Regions from separate parts of the Homo sapiens genome. Here region 2 is linked to region 1. The links come from fine-mapping of genetic effects on gene expression. Tissue or cell type: whole blood. Region 1 holds a variant in brackets; the other region holds the start of a gene. All regions are shown on one strand. Distances are between the middles of the regions.

Region 1 (8,000 bases):
CTGTTTTAGTCTCATCTTATTCTGGAATGACAGGTTAATTGGATGTGAGATTCTAGATTGACAGTTATTCCTCCTTGGCTCTTGTTTACTATTGAGAAGTATGGTATTAATTTGACATTCTTTTCCCTCTCATTGCTTATATTTTATCTTTCTTATCAGTCTTTTTCTTTGTTTATACTGCATTTTGCATATTGCTTAAAAATATGTATGTTGCTTAAAAATGCCTCCTATACCACACAATTATAAATAAATTCTACTACATATTTTCTAACAACCTTATAATTTTATTTCTTACATTTCCCTCTTTTATACATTTGAAACCTATTTTTATGTATGGTGTAAGGTGGTGTTTTAGGCCATTTTTGTGTTGCTGTAAAGAAATACCTGGCCAGGGCCGGGCACGGTGGCTCACGCCTATAATCCCAGCACTTTGGGAGGCTGAGGTGGACGGATCACGAGGTCAGGAGATTGAGACCATCCTGGCTAACACAGTGAAAACCCGTCTCTACTAAAAATACAAAAAATTAGCCAGGCGTGGTGGTGGGCACCTGTAGTCCCAGTGACTCGGGAGGCTGAGGCGGGAGAATGGCGTGAACCCGGGAGGTGGAGCTTGCAGTGAGCCGAGATCGCGCCACTGCACTCTAGCCTGGGCGACAGAGCAAGACTCCCTCTCAAAAAAAAAAAAAAAAGAAAAAGAAATACCTGGCCAGGAGTAGTGGCTCATGCCTGTAATCCCAGCACTTTTGGAGGCCAACGCGTGTGGATCACTTGAGGCCAGGAGTTTAAGACCAGCCTGGCCAACATAGCGAAACCCCATCTCTACTAAAAATACAAAAAAAAGCTGGGTGTGGTGGCACACACCTGTAATCCCAGCTGCTCGGGAGGCTGAAACAGAAGAATCCCTTGAACTTGGGAGGTGGAGGTTGCAGTGAGCTGAGATCAAGCCACTATGCTACAGCCTGAGTGAAAAAGAAAAAAAAAACAAAAGAAATACCTGAGGCTGAGTAATTTATAAAGAAAAGGGGTTTAATTTAGCTTGTGCTTCTGCAGGTTGTACAGGCATGGCTCCAAGATATGCTCTTGATGAGGACCTCAGGAAGCTTGCAATCATGGCAGAAGGCAAAGGAGGAGTAGATGTGTCACATAGTGAGGGCAGAAACGAGAGAGAGGAGGTGCCATATACTTTTAAACAACCAGATCTCACATGAACTTAGAGTGAAGACTCACTCTTCAACAGGAGATGATGCTAAGCTATTCATGAGGGATCTGCACCCATGATCAGACACTTCCCACCCCCAACACTAGCGGTTACATTTCAACATGAGATTTGGAGGAGACAAACATCTGAACCATATCAGGTGGCAACTTAACTTAAAAAAACAACACTGAACTCAAACTCCTGATGCCATATTGGGAAGAAGAGTTTATTTTGAGATCTGTATTTTTTAGTGCCCTTATGGAGTGGGGTGAATGTTGCTGGTGTTGCTCTGAAGACTCTGGACCCTAAATTAGGAACGGATTCAGATAAGGAACACTGGAAAAATATCCATAAACAAGTTATTCAAAGGTAATAGTACCTATTCAGTTTCTTAATGCCTTAATAGTCAGTCTTAAGAATAAATATCACGGACAAAAATCAAGTAGTTGATCCTTGCTTTTTGTGAGATAAATAACTCTAGGCTCCTGAAAACCACTAAATTCAGACTTATACATAGCTTTCTTTTTGGGGGCATTTTTCAAAAAGAAAAAGTACTTATTATTTCACAACTCATATATTTGAGAGTAATAAAAGCATAGTGATTATGAGCATGGACTTTGGACCCAGGTTGTCCAGGTTTGAAACCTGCTTCATCATTTATTAGTGATATGATATTGGGAAATTACTTAAAATATCAGAAGTTGTTTACTTATCTTCGAAATGGGGATAATTATAGAACCTACTTTACATAATAGCCTTATGGAGAGTAAATAAGTTAATACTACATGTAAAATGCTAGAACCATGCCAAGAACTTATTAAATGTTCATCATTTGAGTAGATGAAACATTAAGCTAATGCAGATGATCAGAAATCAATATGGTTTTCTTATAAATGAAGCATCTGACTCCATATATATTAGCCTTAACAGCACACAGGATTATTCTTCATGGTTTAGTCAAGAGTCAAGTTACATATTAGTAGAAGTTATAGAACTTAAAAATTGGCTGGGCGGGGTGGCTCACGCCTGTAATTCCAGCGCTTTGGGAGGCCAAGGCGGGTGGATCACCTGAGGTCAGCAGTTCGAGACCAGCCTGAACAACATGGTAAAACCCCATCTCTTCTAAAAATACAAAAATTAGCTCGGTGTGGTGATGGGCGCCTGTAATCCCAGGTACTTGGGAGGCTGAGGCAGGAGAATCACTGGAACCCAGGAGGCAGAGGTTGCAGTGAGCCAAGACAGCGCCATTGCACTCCAGCCTGGGCAACAAGAGTGAAACTCCATCTCAAAAAAAAAAAAAAAAAAAAAGAACTTAAAAATCACTTTTGGATATTCACAGCTTGGAATATTGAACTTAACAAAAACCACAAGTCTACTGTATGTATACTTAAAACAACCCTACAAAAATGTGTAAGAGGCCAGGCATGGTGGCTCACGCCTATAATCCCAATACTTTGGGAGGCCAAGGTGGGCAGATCACCTGAGGTCAGGAGTTCGAGACCAGCCTGGCCAACATGGTGAAAACCGTCTCTACTAAAAAAAAAAAAAAAAAAAAAAAAACAAAAATTAGCCAGCTGTGGTTGTGCGTGCCTGTAATCCCAGCTACTTGGGAGGCTGAGGCACAAGAATTGCTTGAACCTAGGAGGCAGAGGTTGCAGTGAGCCAATATTGTGCCAGTGCAATCCAGCCTGGGCAACAGAGCAAGACTCTGTCTCAGAAAAAAGATAAATAAATAAAATAATAGGCTGGGCGCAGTGGCTTATGCCTGTAATCCCAGCATTTTGGAAGGCCTAGGTGGGCTGATCATGAGGTCAGGAGATCAAGACCATCCTGGCCAATATGGTGAAACTCCGTCTCTACTAAAATA[C/CAA]AAAAAAAAAAAAAAAAAAAATTAGCCGGGTGTGGTGGTGTGCCCCTGTAATCCCAGCTACTCAGGAGGCTGCGGCAGGAGAATCGCCTGAACCTGGGAGGCGGAGGTTGCAGTGAGCCAAGATCACACCAGTGCACTCCAGCCTGGCAACAGAGCAAGACTCTGTTTCAAAGAAAACAAACAAATAAATAAATAAAATAAAATAATAAAACAAAAATGTGTAAGAATTAGGGCAGAGACTAAAAAGTCATAATATAACAAGTGATCATGGGTGAGTTTTTATTCTCTTAAATGCCTTTTAGTTTTAAAAGTTTATATTATTTTATTTTTGGTTATAAAAAGTAACATGGCAATGTGTATGAGTACAGAGCTACAGTTTGGGAAGATGAAAACATTTGAGAGAGGATAGTAGTAATGACTGCACAGCAGTGTTAATGCACTTAATGCCACTGAACTGTAATTGTTAAGATGATAAATTTTACCGTAGTTAAAAAAGCAGTTAAGGCTGGGTGCAGTGGCTCACATCTGTAATCCCAACCCTTTGGGAGGCTGAGGTAGGAGGATTGTTTGAGGCCAGGAGTTTCAGATCAGCTGGGGCAACAGAGTGAGATCATGTCTCCACAAAAAATTTTAAAAAATTAGCCAGGCATGGTGGTATGTCTGTAGTCCCAGCTACTGGGGTGGTTGAGGCAGGAAGATCACTTGAGCCCAGGCGTTTTAGGCTCAACTCAAACTCGCAGAGGTATGATCACACCACTGCACACTAGCCTGGACAGCAGAGAAAAATCCTGTCTCTAAAAAAATAAATAAATAAAATAAAATAAATTAAAAAATTAACTAGTTGTAGTGTTGCATACCTGTAGTCTTAGCTACCTGGGAGATTGAGATGGGAGGATTACTTGAGCCCAGGAATGCAAGATTGCAATGAACAACGATAGTCCACTGCATTCCAACCTGGGCAACAGAGTGAGACCTCATCTCTTAAAAAAAAAACAAAAAACAACAACAACAATATTAAAAGTATATAGCCACGAATTGTTGTCTGAAATTCAGACTGTCCGACTCACAGGACATAATAGGTTTTCACCTAGCATTAAGTTTATCTAGCATGGTGAAAGGATACCAGGAAGAAAACACAGTATAGCATATCAGTATCTTCTTTAGAAGGTATTTCTTTTCTTTTTTTTTTATTTGAGATGGGGTCTTGCTTTGTCGCCAGGCTGGAGTGCAGTGGTGTGGTCTCTGCACTCCGCCTCCCGGGTTCAAGCAATTCTCCTGCCTCAGCCTCCTGAGTAGCTGGGACTACAAGCACGCGCCACCATGCTCAGCTAATTTTTGTATTTTTAGTAGAAACGGGGTTTCACCATGTTGGCCAGGAGTCTTAATCTCTTGACCTCATGATCTGCCCACCTTGGCCTCCCAAAGTGCTGGGATTACAGGCATGAGCCACCACACCCGGCCCTTTAGAAGATATTTCAATGCGGCTGGGCGTGGTGGCTCATGCCTGTAATCCCAGCACTTTGGGAGGCTGAGGCGGTTAGATCACTTCTTAAGGTCAGGAGTTCAAGACCAGCCTGGCCCAACATGGTGAAACCCTGTCTCTACTAAAAATACAAAAATTAGCTGGGCTTGGTGGCGGGCGCCTGTAATCCCAGCTATTTGGGAGGCTGAGGCATCACTTGAACCCAGGAGGTGGAGGTTGCTGTGAGTTGAGGTTACGCCACTGCACTCCAGCATGGGCGACAGAGGGAGACTCCGTCTAAAAACAAAACAAAACAAAACAACAGTATTGCAATGCTTAGGTGTAGCTTCTAGGCCCTATCACTGCTTGGGGCACACTCAGTTACACAGAAGGAAGCTGACATGGGGGCAGACTTCCCCAGCACAGGAAAGCGGCTGCCTTTAGTTCTCAACAGTTTTGTTTTTTGTTTTTTTTTAACTGCAAAAGTGGGAAATTCTCAACAGTTCTTAATGCACTTCCTGTCACATAGCCCTCAGGGTCTGCATACTTGATCCCAGTACTGCTAGTCCTGATACAATGCACAAATCAATGGTTTCATAAAATCCAGTGCTGATAACCTAGTTCTATGATAGTTAATAGTCCACATTTATCTTAACTAATTTTTATATCTAGAAAACTATGTTGCCTGAACTCAAACTCAAGGTTATCTTCCCAGTTACTTCTGGCTTTTTCGAAAGGGCTCAAATCCACTGTTAACCCTTTACCCTTGGTACCTTTCCATGACCTCAGATTATTATCTTTGTATCATATATTCTTCAGAGTTCATTTGACAAACATTTCTTCAATATTTTATAAATAGAAAAGACAAGTTAGTACATCTACAACCACTAGACTCTATAAGACACAGTAGGTAAACAGAATCCTTCACAATGTTTTGGTAATTCTTAACCAACTAGACTGTTTTTTTCCCCCCTCTATCATTTACTATCACTTGCGTCTTATTAAAGGTATTGATACACGCATTCAATCACATGTTTTATCTCTTTCTCTCTCTCTTTTTTTTTTTTTTTTTTTTGAGACAGAGTCTTGCTCTGTTGCCCAGGCTGGAGTGCAGTGGGGCAATTTTGGCTCACTGCAACCTCCGCCTCCTGGGTTCAAGCGATTCTCATGCCTCGGCCTCTTGAGTAGCTGGGACTACAGGAGTGTACCACCACACCTGGCTAGTTTTTATATTTTTAGTACAGATGGGGTTTCACCATGTTGGTCAAACTGGTCTCCAACTCCTGACCTCAGGTGATCTGCCCGCCTCAGCCTCCTGAAGCCACCACGCAGTTTTTATATTTCTAAAGCAAATGTATTTCTTTTTTTGGCCAAACTATTTCCATAAGTATCACATCAATTGAAAGTTTTAGGTCAATTTACCAAAATATCTTTTACTTTGAAAATCATTATTGGTATGTTTTATTTTCTTAAATTCTCTTAAGGGAACCTACAAATGCTTTGTTTCACCAAAAAGCTTTGAATGAGAGGTTAAATTAATCCCTAGAAAACACAATATGTATTAATATTACAGTATCTTTTCCTGTCCTTCTCAACAAAACTGTCCCTTATGCCCATATATTTTCAGCTATAGGGGCCAGGAGACCAGTCTCCAATAAATGCAGGGATCTAACTGGTCTGGAGGCACATCCATACCCCCCACCCACTAAGGAACTTGTTTTAACCGATAGCGGTTTCCAAGTGTTATGGAGCAGCCCATCTACCTCCCATAGGGCTGTCACAGTGTTGGTCTTTATCTACCCAGTCACTAATAATTGTACCACAGAGAATGGTAGTTCTTTCTTTTCTTTCTTTCTTTTTTTTTTTTTTTTTGAGACACAGTCTGGCTCTGTCATCCAGGCTGGAGTGTAGTGGCATGATCTTGGCTTACTGCAACCTCTGACTCCCAGGCTCAAGCCATCCTCACACCTCAGCCTCCTGAGTAGCTAGGAATACAGGTGCATGCCACCATGCCTGGCCACTTTTTGTATTTTTGGTAGTGATGGGGTTTCACCATGTTGCCCAGGCTGGTCTCAAACTCCTGAGCTAAAGCAATCTGCCCACCTTGGCCTCCCAAAGTGTTGGGATTACAGGTGTGAGCCACTGTACTCGGGCAGTTCCTTTTTAATTTGAGACACTTGCTTTAAGGGAACAAGGATTAAGATCACATTTCCCATTGAAGTCCTGTGTGATTTGAATACCAAATATTCCAATGTGTTTCAGATCAGTACTTATCACTATTGGTCCTCTCAACTCTGCAGTATCTAAAATTAAATTATTTGCCTCTTGATCATTTAGCAGAGGATCTATAATTATAAATAATCCTCAGGGTGCTGCTAATATTTATCTAAAAACTACTCAGCTCTTTTTACACAACAGCTTCTGATTTGCTGTTGTCTAACCACCAATTGCAGAGGAATGACATCATGATTTAATAGGATGTCCTTACTTGTTCCCAAGAGGGCATTTGGTTTACAATGTGTATCAGTTTTTGTCTTAAAGTACCATCCTTGAAACTATTTCTTCTATTTGCTCCCTTTACCCTTTCTTTTACACCAGCAATTTTATTTTCATCAGGATGGTTAATAACAACTAAAGGATTATGTTTTTAGCTATTCTCAACTTTCTTCTGTTTCTCAATCTATTTTATTAATACCTGAGAGGATAAATCTGTCATCCAGATTCAACTGGTGAGATTTGTCCCCAGTAATCTACTGTAGAGCTTTCTTTTCTTCAACTCATAGACAGTATGCTGTCAATCAAGTGCCAGGCAGACCCTCTTTCCCTTTCCTTTTACTTACCCCCGGAGTCTTGGCCGTACAGAATTGAGGGTCTAAAAGTACTTTTGTCATCAAAAGTATTGCATGGCCTCTGATAGTGGCCCTGATTTTGGACTGATAGTCAAATCATAGGACACTACTGTAGGAACAGTCCAGGCCCAACCTGCTGTGTTCAGGTGGTATATATATATATATATATATATATATATATATATATATATATATGCCTTATCTTGGCAACCAAGTGTGTTATGTGCATTCTTGGGGCTTTAAAACGGGGTAGTTGTAAGACCTCCTGATATGAATGATATATGCTGGACAGTCTTTGCTTCTTGTCCTGTATCCTTTCTAAAAGTTAAATAAACTTAGTGCTAAATTAAACCCTCTTTGTCCAGTGAAGTTGACTGTCAATCCAAACCTGAGACCACTATTTGTAGCAATGCAAATATATAATAAATATTAATTGTAGGAAATAAGGAAATTCAGACAGGCATAAAGAAGACTCACCTGTAAGCCTGTCTTGTAAAAATAATCACTATTAATAACTTGGTAGGTTGATGCAGCTCTAAAGTTTGTATAAAAATTTATATTTTTTACAAGCCAGAGATAAGAAAATGCATAATGTTTAGTATTGTGCTATTTTCCTTTGAAAAT
Region 2 (8,000 bases), 47 kb before region 1:
GGAAAGAAAGTTTCCCAGTGGAAAAAAAGTTTATTTGCACTAGGAGCTTACAGTTCAGTGACAGAGACATATACAAATATGAATTAATTTATTTGGGAGGCTGAGGTAGGCAGATGGCTTGGGCCCAGGAGTTCAAGACGAGGCTGGACAACATGGAGAAACCCCGTCTCTACTAAAAATATAAAAATTAGCCGGGCATTGTGGTGCACACTTATAGTTACAGCTACTCAGGAGGCTGAGGTGGGAGGATCACCTGAGCCTGGGATGTGGAGGTTGCATACAGTGAGCTGAGATTGCACTGGGTCACAGAGGGAGACCCTGTCTCAAAAAAAAGGAATATATTGAGTGCTGGTTATGTGGGGCTCAGGTGGGTAGGGATGATGGCAAAGGAGAGGGCACTCAGAGTGAAGGAACTCCCTAGGTGGAAGGCTTGAGGTGAGAGAGTACATGGCACATTTGGAGAATGTGGTGCGTAGCCCTGGGACTGGTACATAGGAAGCATGAAGGAAAATAGATAAAACCAGAGAGGGGATGTGGGCGCTGGATCACAGGGGTTTGGCTGTGTCTTTCCAAAGTGTTTGGACTTTATTCTTGAGGCAATGAGGGGCCACCGAATGCTCTTAAGGAGGCGTATAATAAATACAAGATGAAGGAATGACTCAGCACTATGTTTTGGATGGACAGCATCCTGCAGCCAGGGCCATTTTAGGAAAATCTTACAGTGGGTGCTAAGCAGCATCTATTCTCTGAGGCCAGCTTGTCCCTTGGTTAAACCACCTCTTTATGGGATTTTCCCTTTAAAAAAATTTTACTGATACATAATAGTTGTACATATGCATGAGGTACATGTGACATTTTGATACAAGCATAAAATGTATAATGATCAAATCTGGGGAACTGGTATATCCATCACCTCAAATATTTGTGATTTCTTTGTGTTGGGCACATTCTGAATCTTCTAGCTATTTTGAAATATACAATAAGTTATTAACTATACTCGCCCTATCTAACTGTATTTTTGCACCCATTAACCAATCCCTCTTCATCCTTCATCCCCACTATCCTCCCCAACTTGTGGTAACCACCATTCTATTCACTACCTCCATAAGACCAAATTTTTTAGTTCCCACATGAGTGAGAACATGCGATGTTTGCCTTTCTGTGCCAGTTTATTTCACTTAACATAATGACCTCCAGTTCCATCCATGTTGCTGCAAATGACAGGATTTCATTCTGAAATAGCTGAATAGTATTTCACTGGGTATATACAGCACATTTTTTTCTTCTTTTTTTAAATTTTTTTTTTTGAGACAGGGTCTTGCTCTGGATTGCAGTGGTGACATCACAGTTCACTGCAGCCTGGACCTCCCTGGGTCAGGTGATCCTCCCACCTCAACCTCCTGGGTAGATGGGACTACAGGCATTTACCACCATCCTCAGCTAATTTTTTTTTTTGTATTTTTTGTAGATATGGGGGTTCACCATGTTGCCCAGGCTGGTCTTGAACTCCTGGGCTCAATCTGCCTGCCTCAGCCTTCCAAAGTGCTGGGATTACAGGCATGAGCCACCATGTCCAGCCCCTCTGCTTCCTGGGTTCAAGCAATTCTCCTGCTTCAGCCTCCCAAGTAGCTGGGGATTACAGGCATGTACCACCACGCCCGGCTAATTTTTTTATTTAGTAGAGATGGGGTTTCATCATGTTGGTCAGGCCGGTCTTGAACTCCTGACCTCAGGTAATCCGCCCACCTCGGCCTCCCAAAGTGCTGGGATTAGAGGCATGAGCCACTGCACCTGGCCAACACATTTTCTTTATCATCCATCCATTGATGACACTTAGATTGAGTTCATCCATACTTCAGCTATTGTGAATAGTGCTGCAATAGTCATGGGAGTGCAGATATCTGTTTGATATACTGATTTCGTTTCTTTTGGATATATACTCAGATTGCTGGATCATATGGAAGTTGCAGTTTTAGTTTTTTGAGGGGTCTCCATACTGTTTTCCATAGTGACTGTGCTAGGGGTTTTCCCTTTTGAAGAGGCCACATCCAAAGAACACTTGGTCAGATTAAGAATTCTGTTCTGTCCCCTGAAAGTGTTTTCTGACCTGTTCCAAGGGTTCCACATTCTTCTCTGGCTTTAGTACAGAAGTTCTACTGTTTGGATTGTATTAGTCAGGGTTCTATATTAGTCAGGGTTCTCCAGAGAAACAGAACCAATGGAAGAATATATATAAAGAGATTTATGAGGAGGAATTTACTTATGTGTTTATGCAGGCAGAGAAGTCCCATGATCTTGCCATCTGCAAGCTGGAGACTCAGGAAAGCTGGTGGTATAAATTCCAGTTCGAGCCCAAAGGCCTGAGAATCAGGAGAGCCAAGGGTCTAAGTCCCAGTCTAAGGGCAGAATACCAAGGTCTCAGCAGATACACCCATTGGCACCCACAGCCTCTTCTGAGCCTGGGACTGGTTTGGGCCCCCTAGATAATTTCTTGCCCTTTGTATGGAGTGATGTGGGACAACATCCTATAATAGAGAGAAAATCATAGGCTTTGGGGTTAGTCAGCACTGGGTTAAAGTCTCAGCCAAAATCACTTACTAGCTGCACTACCTTAGCAAAGTCACTTACCTTTCTGAGCCTTGGTTTCCATATCTGAAAAATGGGGATAATTATGCCTACTCCAAAGGATGAGTATGGGGATTACCTAGCTGGCTGCCAGCACCATAGCAGGTGCTCAGTAAATGGTATTTGTTTTATTCATATTTGTGGAGTCAAATACTGGCTGTTGTTCTGCCTAAGAAGCCTGAAGCTGTGCTTGGAGCAAGCTGTTGCTAGGTATCATAAATTAGGGGAATGAAGACTCTACCTAGTTTATCTTCACAGGTCATCTCAGAGTGCCCCAACCCAAGCCTTTCAGGTGAAAATTCTTCGTCTCCCCAGCCAACTTCAGCTCTCTGCCTTCTGCACACCTCTTCCCAGCAGCAGTGGTCACATTTGGTAGGCAGGCAGGGGCCCAGCCCTGACTGAGAACACTGTTGCAAAGACTGAGAAACCGGAAAACACTGTGGCAATCTGCCCTGCCCTGAGGTACTCTGAAGAATCAGTGGCCCACCCCTAAACTTTCCAGCTGTGTGTTTGAGGTGAGAGCCCCATTTCAGAACCTAGAGTGATCTTAGAATCTAGAGTGATGGGAAAACTGTTAGAACATGCAAGCATGCCCTGCTATTTTTTTTTTTTTTTTGAGACAGGGTCTCACTATGCTGCCCAGGCTAGTCTCGAACTCCTGGCCTCAAGCAGTCCTCCCACCTCAACCACATTGGTGCTGGGATTACAGGCATGAGTCACTGCACCTGGCCCCTTGTGCTATTTTGGAGCTGAGGTTAGAGTTTTCCGTCAAAACCAAGAAACTCAGTTATGGATCTATCTCAAAGCTGCACTGGGCTGCTGCTGTAGGTTCAGGGAGTAAGTAAAGCCATCCACCCCTTTGGGCTGAAAGTTCCAGCCCTCTAATTCCCTAATCATTTGGTCTTTCCCATGACTGGCTCCTTCCTGAGGCTATCTAAGACTCCTCATTCATTAACATTAAGTCAGGGAAAAAGGCTCTTTATAAATAACAAAAGACATTCCTATCAGAAAATTCAGGAAATTTTGGCATACTCAAGGGCTTACCAAATATATTTCATAATATACCCCACAGTGGGGAAGTATTGGTACAAATTAAAGAAGAGATGGAGGAGGGCGGGCTAGGCAATGGAATCAGCAAGAATACAGGCCCAGAGGTAAGTATGATAAGAAAACAAAAAATTGAGCTGGGCACGGTGGCTCACGCCTGTAATCCCAGCTCTTTGTGAGGCCGAGGCGGCCAGATCACTTGAGGCCAGGAGTTTGAGATCAGCCTGACCAACATGGTGAAACCCCGTCTCTACTAAAAATTACAAAAATTAGCCGGGCGTGGTGGCGCCTGGCTGTAATCCCATCTTCTCAGGAGGCTGAGGCAGGAGATTCGCTTGAACCCGGGAGGCGGAGGTTGCAGTGAGCCGAGATCAGCCCACTGCACTCCAGCCTGGGCGACAGAGCGACTCCGTTTCAAAAAAAAAAAAATTAATAATTAAAAAAAAAATCGCAGGGCAAGTGGGCGCGCTTGTAGTCCCAGTCACTTCGGGGAGCCGAGGTGGGAGGATCGCTTGAGCCAGAAGGTCGAGGCTGCAGGAAGCCATGATCACGCCACTGCCCTCCAGCCTGGGTGACAGAGTGAGACCCTGTCTCGAAAAATACCAAAAAACAAATAAACAAACAAAAAACCAAAACCAAAAAAACAAGCCACTGACAGTTCTTGGGTATGGTTGAGACTCGAGATGAGATGCCAGTGGGGTGGGCAGTAGAAAGTGCAGAATAAAATGTACATTTGAACTGAGTCACCCTGCAAGGCCTGAGAGGCCAAGGCTTCACTGTGAGTGGGAGCTGGTAGGCTTAGCAGCAGAGGGAAAAGCAGCGTCGAGTTTTGGAGGTCACTCGACTTAGGTAAGAACAGACTGACTGACTGCTAGGCATTTTCTTCCTTTCGTTCAACAAATATTTGTGGAGTGCCTATTACGTGCCAGAAGCTGTTCTGGACACTGAGAAACAGGGATGAAGAAGAAACAGATCCAAGCCTTCCTGAGAGTAACCTCCCCAGGTTTCATGGATGAGGAAACTGAAGGTCGTCCTGACTCAGGCTCATGGCTCCGACCCCGGCTTCTGTGGTTGGAGGGCAGCACCTTACTTAGACTCCCAGCGCACGTGGAGCAGTCTGCCGGTCGGTTGTCTGGCTGCGCGCGCCACCCGGGCCTCTCCAGTGCCCCGCCTGGCTCGGCATCCACCCCCAGCCCGACTCACACGTGGGTTCCCGCACGTCCGCCGGCCCCCCCCGCTGACGTCAGCATAGCTGTTCCACTTAAGGCCCCTCCCGCGCCCAGCTCAGAGTGCTGCAGCCGCTGCCGCCGATTCCGGATCTCATTGCCACGCGCCCCCGACGACCGCCCGACGTGCATTCCCGGTACGGTAGGGCCCTGCGCGCACGGCGCCAGAGGGATGGGCGGGTAGAGCCAACTGCCTCTGGTTCTGCTGGCCTCCGCTGCTCGCGAAGGGATTCCTGCTCCCGGGAGGTGTAGGAGCCGCTTTCCAGAAGCACAGCCCAGAGACGTCTGGGCGGCGGCCCACACAACGCATGTGTTCGGAGCTCGCCGCGCTCTGCTTTTGCTCTAAGCGGGAACCATGGCTTCTGGCCACGCTGGGGAACCGAGGAGGTGGCCGCACCCAAGCAGGGGTCGAAAGCCCGGGTGGATGCGGAACAAGGATATGATAGGCCTTAAGGGTGGGGGATACCTCTGGGCTCGAAATCGGCGGGCGGTGCAAAACTCGAGGTCCAGTTCTCGGAGCCCATAGAGCCAAAAAAGCCTCAGCTTGTCCGGGGCGGGTTCTTGAAAGACGGAAAGCGGCTGAGTACCACGCGGCTTGCATTTTTCTCTTGGGACGCTCGAGAGGTGGGCTCCGTGAGGGCAGCTGCTGCCTGCAGATTATAGGGAGCCCTTTGCGCATTTATTAAGAAGCTACTGGTGTATCTCGGGCTGCGCTAGGCACGGCGCATGCAAAGATGAAGCAGGCAGCATCCCAGCCCTTCCGCACCTCAGACGGTCAGTTGAGTAGGATCCGCCGGTACCAACTCCTCCTTTTAACAAATAGGGAGACCGAAAGCTAGGAGACAGTCAGGGATCTCTAAGTTCCCAGTGAGTAGGAGGCAGAGGTGAGGTGTAGAACTCGTTTTTGCATGTCTCTCGCCTCTAGACGCACCCTTCCCTCATCCCATGCCCTCCCACCTCCGCCCCTACATTAAAGGTAGCATTGGATCCCGGGGCCGTTCAGTGAAGCTAGCAGGTGTCCGCAGGAACTCCCTTCCCCCTGCCAGGCTAGAAACCTTACAAGGCTGTCTAGAAATAGCAGTGATTTGTAAGGAGAGACCCGGCTCCAGCTTGGTGACTCTGGGCTGACTGCCTGCCTAGAGGTCCTCTCGGATTTTTGCCCTTTGGAGTGGTGTCAAAACTAGACGTGATACTTTGGGGATGCAGCCTGTGATATTTCCTCCAGCGAATGCAGTGCAGGGTTGGATTAACAAGGTGGAAAGAATTCGAGGGTTCCACCAAGTAGCTATTAACTCTAGGGCTGCAGGCCTCAGGCCTTCTGCAGCTATTTCTACACTCCCTGTACTGAAACTATTTCTTCATACTGGGCCTGACAGGCCTTTGCAACAAGGATCACGGCCGAAGCCACACCGTGCGCCTCCCTCCCGGTTGGTTAACAGGCCCTGGTTTCTAGTATTGCGATTTAAAGTCTGGCGCTGGCTGCGCGCCAGACCTGGGAGGCTGCCAGCTAGGCTTCACGTTGCTGGCGTCTGCTTCGGGGCATTCATTAGGTCTGAAGTCTGAATCCCAGCTCCCTCCCTCTCACCCACTGAGCTGCATAGCTCCAGATTGCCTCTGCTTACGGGCGGGGCTTCTCAGCCTTCTGCCTTCTGGCCCGATGCCCGCTTCCCAACGGCCGGAGGCCGCTAGACTAATCGGCTTCGCCCTGCGCGCTGTAATGCGCATGCGCACGCGCACAAGTTCCTGGGCCCGCCCATCTTCCGGACTTGGGCGGGGCGTAAAAGCCGGGCGTTCGGAGGACCCAGCAATTAGTCTGATTTCCGCCCACCTTTCCGAGCGGGAAGGAGAGCCACAAAGCGCGCATGCGCGCGGATCACCGCAGGCTCCTGTGCCTTGGGCTTGAGCTTTGTGGCAGTTAATGGCTTTTCTGCACGTATCTCTGGTGTTTACTTGAGAAGCCTGGCTGTGTCCTTGCTGTAGGAGCCGGAGTAGCTCAGAGTGATCTTGTCTGAGGAAAGGCCAGCCCCACTTGGGGTTAATAAACCGCGATGGGTGAACCCTCAGGAGGCTATACTTACACCCAAACGTCGATATTCCTTTTCCACGCTAAGGTATGGGCCTTCACTCTTCACAGACCCTGTCATTAGGCCTTTCAACTCTCTTTTGGCAACCATTAGGTTTTTTCCCCTCCCTTTTTAGTCATCTCTAGTGATTTATAGTGGCAAATACCCCCAAAGGAAGTAAAATAGCTTAAAAAAATCTCTTGGTTAATAAACATTAAAGAAGCTGTAGTGACACTAAATGTTTTTCCTCCTATAGATTCCTTTTGGTTCCAAGTCCAATATGGCAACTCTAAAGGATCAGCTGATTTATAATCTTCTAAAGGAAGAACAGACCCCCCAGAATAAGATTACAGTTGTTGGGGTTGGTGCTGTTGGCATGGCCTGTGCCATCAGTATCTTAATGAAGGTAAGTGAGAGTCTACCACACTGGAAGCCCATACCTTGACCCCATCCTCTACCCCCACTCCTACCCCTAGAACTGTATTATTACATTTCATGTAACAGTATTTAGATTTATGCACTCATTCGGATAACTTTCTGTGAAACAAACTTTTGAAATATGATAATACACCAAAAGTGTATCTGAAATTAAAAAGAATCAAAGGTTGTCAGGCTGGAGACCCAGTTCCTAAAATTCATTATTCTGTATTAACATGCATGGATTGACTACCAATGAAAAGGAAGGGTCCATGATTTTAAATGAGCCAAAATTCTTTTAAAGTGATTTTTGAATTGAAAATGACAATTCAAAAATTGTCATTTATTGGTAAAATTATATGGGAAATCATAAGTTCTCCCACTCAAATCTCATTGCCCCTGTGCCTTGGATAGCAATTTTGTTATCAATTATGGAGCTAAAATTTAATTAGAAAAAAGAAATTGTGAGTAAAGCACTCCTTATTACACTATTGAAAGCTGATTTATATTTAAAAGAAATTGAGGCAGCTTACAACATTAAAATGTCTGAGGCGGGGCACAGTGGCTCATGCTTGTAATGCCAGCACTTTAGGAGGCTGAGGTGGGTGGATCACGAGGTCAG

Evidence for each region. PIP is the estimated chance that this variant, and not a neighbour inherited with it, causes the effect.
Region 2: LDHA starts here. The variant in region 1 is fine-mapped to the expression of LDHA in whole blood (INTERVAL, PIP above 0.99).

What each region holds. Positions count from the first base shown.
Region 1 is chr11:18,437,079-18,445,078 of GRCh38, forward strand. It overlaps LDHC (lactate dehydrogenase C), which reads left to right. Exons shown (of 8, transcript NM_017448.5): 6 at 1,450-1,567. Among named protein-coding and RNA genes, the nearest start is that of LDHAL6A, 15 kb to the right of the region's middle. The variant C/CAA (reference allele first, on the strand shown) is at 3,066.
Region 2 is chr11:18,389,602-18,397,601 of GRCh38, forward strand. It overlaps LDHA (lactate dehydrogenase A), which reads left to right and starts at 4,962. Exons shown (of 8, transcript NM_005566.4): 1 at 4,962-5,035; 2 at 7,218-7,367. The coding sequence starts at 7,242. RefSeq lists enhancers at 4,257-4,921, 4,568-4,657, 4,922-5,587, 4,968-5,057, 6,322-6,823 and a silencer at 5,818-5,867.